Linked DNA regions of Homo sapiens: region 2 is linked to region 1. The links come from fine-mapping of genetic effects on gene expression. Tissue or cell type: substantia nigra. Region 1 holds a variant in brackets; the other region holds the start of a gene. All regions are shown on one strand. Distances are between the middles of the regions.

Evidence for each region. PIP is the estimated chance that this variant, and not a neighbour inherited with it, causes the effect.
Region 2: TRAPPC4 starts here. The variant in region 1 is fine-mapped to the expression of TRAPPC4 in substantia nigra (GTEx, PIP 0.99).

Annotation. Positions count from the first base shown.
Region 1 is chr11:118,080,239-118,082,992 of GRCh38, reverse strand. The region is part of intron 1 of SMIM35 (small integral membrane protein 35); the gene reads left to right. The region is part of intron 1 of TMPRSS4 (transmembrane serine protease 4); the gene reads right to left. Among named protein-coding and RNA genes, the nearest start is that of TMPRSS4, 4.5 kb to the right of the region's middle. The variant C/T (reference allele first, on the strand shown) is at 1,617.
Region 2 is chr11:119,017,322-119,019,935 of GRCh38, reverse strand. TRAPPC4 (trafficking protein particle complex subunit 4) reads right to left here and starts at 1,170. Exons shown (of 5, transcript NM_016146.6): 1 at 966-1,170; 2 at 619-793. The coding sequence starts at 1,140. It overlaps RPS25 (ribosomal protein S25), which reads left to right and starts at 1,593. Exons shown (of 5, transcript NM_001028.3): 1 at 1,593-1,654; 2 at 1,883-1,978; 3 at 2,391-2,574. The coding sequence starts at 1,652. RefSeq lists enhancers at 599-1,297, 1,552-1,781, 1,802-1,871 and a silencer at 1,192-1,311.

The DNA.
Region 1 (2,754 bases):
TGTTTTTCTCTCTGTGTCCCATACGAGGATTCTGCATTTGATTTCAGTGGAGCTAAAGGCTCTGAGGTCAAAGTACGCTTGGGGAACCCACTCGCCGAGAAGACCTCTAAGGTTTTTCCTTAGGGTCTGTGATTCTGAAGAGCTCACTCTCAGCCTGAAATTTCTCTTGTCTCCTCCCACAGATAGGATTAGTCCTAGGCCTGATCCACTTATAATATTCTCTCTTTAAATCAATTTTCTATCGTTAATGGTCTCCTGGTAATTTGGGTTTTTTTTTCCCTGAGCAGCATTGGGTATGAAACTTTAGTTTAGTCTTCTTGAAAGTCTAAGTTAATTATAGCTACTGGTTTTCCCTTTGCCCTTGGCTGAATGACCCTTTTCAAGTCATGAACCTCTTTGAGCCTCAATTTCTTTCTTTCTTTCTTTTTTTTTGAGACCGAGTCTCACTCTATTGCCCAGGCTGGAGTGCAGTGGTGTGATCTCGGCTTACTGCAACCTCTGCCTCCTGGGTTCAAGCGATTCTCATGCCTCAGCTTCCCGAGTCGCTGGGATTACAGGCGTGAGCTACTGCGCTCGGCTAATGTTTATATCTTTAGTAGAGATGGGGTTTCACCATGTTGGCCAGGCTGGTCTTGAACTTCTGACCTCAGGTGATCCGCCCACCTAGGCCTCCCAAAGTGCTGGGATTACAGGCATGAGCCACCACACCCGGCTGAGCCTCAATTTCTTCATCTGTAGAATGAGGATTACAATGTCTCAGAGAGTTGTATTAGACTGAAGGGAGATTTTGGATGTGAAAGTGCTTCTCAAAGCACAACATGGGGCCCTTGTTGCATTTGGATAGAGATGTGATACTGCCGCTGTAGCTATTATTCTCTTTAAGACCACCAGTGACTCCTACGTGTCCGGACAGGTTCTCCCAGCAGCCTGGCAAGACCCTCCTCTCTGGAGACTGGAGATGTGATCGTGAGTGATGTCAGGGTGGAGATGGGATGAAGGTGAGGGGGCTGACCTTGGCTCTATGTTTAGCCCCTTCTTGTGGACATCAGTGAGTGAGTGAGTGTCAGGCTTTGTCTGGAGTGTGGGAAAGCAGTCTCCCCTGCTCCTGTTCCATCTATGGAGTGCACAAAACTGAAGGCCTAGATTTTACATATTCTCTGAATCTTCCATGGTATCTTGCCAGTACCTAGCACATAGTAGATGCTCAGGGAACACATGCTGAATGAATGAATGAATGAATGCATACAGATTTAGAGGAAGAAACTGAGACAGCAGGATATGCTGAAAGCATTGGTTGGCTCAACCGCACCAGCGGGCGACGCCCAGCCAGACTGATGTGCAGGACATTTTGTGACAGGAGACGCGACTGCCACCCCTGGACAGGTGCGCACGCCTGGACAGGGGCCATCATGTCTCTCACCCTCTTCCTCAAGTGTTCCTTTCATCTGCTACCCTTCGAGAGTTTCTGGTTGCACGTGGATTATGCGAGGAAGCTGGAGGGTGCTCTGGGGGCCACGGGCAGGGGAGGACTGTTGCGGTTTTCCATCTTGTTTACACATTTCTCAGCTGCCGACGTGCTGGTTAGTCAGAGTGGCAGGCTGGGAGGTGGCGTTAGA[C/T]GTGTCACAGGGGGATTGCCACATTGGCTCTGCCCCACTCTTCCCCTTCCCTATCACCAGGGTTTCCGGGCAGGCTCAGACCTGTGCCTCCCTCATGCCCATCCCCCTCTGGGATAAAAACACTTTAGTAACCCCTCAGATAGATCTGGTATGTTTTCCAATTGGACTTCGGGTGAGCCTTGTTTTCAGTGTCAGATAAATCAGAAATTGGTTATAGGGGATTCTGTCTTTGATTATTTACCTGTCATCCATCAATCCACTCATTCATTCATTCACATTTACTAAGTGCCTAGTCCATGCCATGGATGCCATGCCCTGTGCTAGGTTTGCGGCTAAAAGCAGAAAAGACACAGACCCTGTCCTCAAGAAGCTCCCATTCTGGTGGCAACAGGTTTAAAAGAAAATGTGGTAGATGATTGCACTTTAGGTTTGGAGGAGTTCACTGTCCCAGGGAATCCTTGCTTGGGAACTTGAAGCGTTTTACTGAGGCTGATGTTTTCACCTGAGCAGGAAGGAAGACTGAGGGCAGAAGAGGCACCTGGGAAGTCTGAGGCCGTGGAGATTTTCAGGCCTGAAAGCATTTGTCTCCTGCTGCCCTGGGGCGTTTCTGGGGCTTTGGGAAGCTTGTCGGCAGTTCCCCAGCTCTGTTTTGGGTCTGTTTTTCTCATCTCTCCCTCTACCCATGACCCCCTTGAGCTGGTCTCTCCTCATTTCTTACATTCAGCTCCTCAGATCTCTTGGGCTTTGGCATGGGTCTGGGCTAGGGAGGTGGCTGCTGGGTTCTCAGCTGCACTGAGGGAAGACTGAGAGGAGGAGAGAGGCCTGGGGTCACGCAGGAGCCCTGACATCTGAACCCCTTCTCCAGGGAAGCACCCAGGCACAGAGCTTGACCCCCAGGGTCAGGCTGGAAGCGCCCTGGGAGATGGACAGGGCCTGGGGATGCAGCTTCCACCTCGGCAGGTGCAGCTCCCATGACCTGGAGTGCCGGAGTCTTTGCTCCAGCCACAGCGAGAGCCTGTTGTCCCTATACTACCACTCTTTCTTGCTGTTCACACATGCAGTCCCCTGTGTCTGGAGCTCCTTCCTGCTTTCCCTGCCTGGAGAGAGCCTGCCCATCCTTCAGAGTCCAATGCAAATA
Region 2 (2,614 bases), 940 kb before region 1:
ACTTTGGGTAAAATGAATACTCTAGGAATATGTGCCACGCTTACTAAGCTTGTGTTTAAGCAAAGGCCGGCACATCTGATATCACAATTGAGAGCAGAAAAAGTTTAAAGGTCATTTAGTTAAACTGGCTTTCTTTAAATATGAAGAAACTAAGGCTCAGAGAAGAGAAGTTGACTTTAAGTAAGATGACACCTCGGCCGGGCGCGGTGGCTCACTCCTGTAATCCCAGCACTTTGGGAAGCCGAGGCAGGTGGATCACCTGAGGTCAGGAGTTTGAGACCAGCCTGGCCAACATGGCAAAACCCCTCTCTACTAAAAATACAAAAATTAGCTGGTCGTGGTGGCACGCGCCTGTAATCCCAGCTACTCGGGAGGCTGAGGCAGGAGAATCGCTTGAACCTGGGAGGCAGAGGCTGCAGTGAGCCGAGATCCCGCCACTGCGCTCCAGCCTGGGTAACTCCGCGGCCCCTCCCCACCCAGCAAAAAAAGATGACACCACTGCCGTTATTACCTAAAATCTAGATCTGGATCGGTTGCGTTTTTCATAACACCAGAACGACGATTTAAGAAAAGGTAGACAAATTACAAGCGCTGCCGTTCAGGAGACGGGGGACTTACGAGTGGAACATGGAGGCCAGCATAAGCTTCTCATTAGAAGTGAGGCGGGGCCGGCCAAATCGAATGGACACCGGGTAATTAGCAGGGTTACCCAGATACTCCAGCACCTCTTTCCCGTCGGCCGTGTACCTGCCATTCACGTCCATGCCATTGATGGCCAGCACTGCATGACCCACTGCAGAGGTGAAGCTAACGGTCAGCGAAGGTGCAGCCCGGGGATTCCGCCGAGGGGACAAGGGACCCGACACAACCCCTTTTCCCCCAACCCCGCACCTACAACCAGCCCACTTCTACAGCACTGGGGCCCTCCCACCCCCGCACCCGCCACGGGCCCGAGCCTAGCCCACCTCGGATGCCGTCCCGCTGGCCGAAAGCAACCAACACACGCTCATCGTGTAGCTTGAGCAGCAGATCCAGCGGATAACTGAAAGTTTTCTCAGCCTCAGCCCGTGGCGCGTAGCTGTCCAACTGGTAAATCAAGCCGCCAGCTTTGTTCACCACATACACACTAAAAATCGCCATCGCTGCCTTGCCGCTCGGAAACTGGTATTCAGCCTCTACCCGACGGCCCCTCCCCGGAACCGCATCACAGCACTTGCCGCCGGCCCCACCCCAGCCTCCTCCTCCTCCTCCTCCTCCTCCCGCGCCCCCCGTGCAGCCACCTGCTGCACTTGCGCACTGGGAGCGACACGCTCGGGCATAAGTAGTGCCGGAAAGTTAGCTGCCGAGACCTGGTGGATTGCTTTTCGTTTATCAGTGCAGGAAAACAGCGCTATAGTATGCGTCACAACTAGCGCAGACTCCGGCAGTATTTAGGCGGTGCGGCTTGGGAACTAGAATCCACTTCCTGTCTTCCGCCTCAGGCTAGAGGGCGAGCGCTTCGCCGTGGGACTTCTTCTGCCTGGCTCCGCCTTTTGCCCCGGAAGTACTCACAGCGGACGGTGGTTTTTGGGCCCGTTTCTGAGCAGCGCTTCCTTTTTGTCCGACATCTTGACGAGGCTGCGGTGTCTGCTGCTATTCTCCGAGCTTCGCAATGGTAAGCTTCAGGGGTGTGAAGTCGCCGGCGTTCTTGGGTTTGAGGACTCAGTGGGGAGAGCCTTCGGCGGGAGCGCTCCTTGGCCTGCCGGCCTCGGTTGCAGGGCGGGCGCGGTTATTGCTTGGCCCATGTGCTCTGGTGGTGGAGTTTGCGGGGGCTGAGGGCGCAGTATTAGGGGACTTTGGCGCTATTTGAGGACCTGGTTGCATTCCCGCTGCCCTCCTACAGCCGCCTAAGGACGACAAGAAGAAGAAGGACGCTGGAAAGTCGGCCAAGAAAGACAAAGACCCAGTGAACAAATCCGGGGGCAAGGCCAAAAAGAAGGTAGAAATAAGACCTCTCTGAAAGAGACTAGGGGTAACTCTCTCGTAATCCTCTAGTAATAGGTAACTTGTATAGTAAGTGGTTTTTCAGGTGTAGATTTCTAGAGTCAAAATGTGAGAGTTTATCTTCCCGTCACCACTCGTTCTTTTTCCCATTAGGATCATGAAAATGGGTCTGTTGTGCGAAGTGTCTGCCGCTGTGCCTGCTGTGTTATTTTTAACTGATCTAGTGGGGCTCGGCCCCTGTTTGAAGGCCAAAAACGTGTCGGTGTTTTTTTTTTGTTTTTGTTTTAGTAATGTGTAATTTATCCTTGATAACGGTGGAACAGATTTCTCTGACGCAGATTACTCGAGAGGGAAAGGGTGCTTCTGCCAGAAATACTAACTTGTTTCTGTTTTGTTTTGGTGAGCAGAAGTGGTCCAAAGGCAAAGTTCGGGACAAGCTCAATAACTTAGTCTTGTTTGACAAAGCTACCTATGATAAACTCTGTAAGGAAGTTCCCAACTATAAACTTATAACCCCAGCTGTGGTCTCTGAGAGACTGAAGATTCGAGGCTCCCTGGCCAGGGCAGCCCTTCAGGAGCTCCTTAGTAAAGGTGAGGGGTGTATCCTACATGTGTGTTTTTGTAGGTTAAA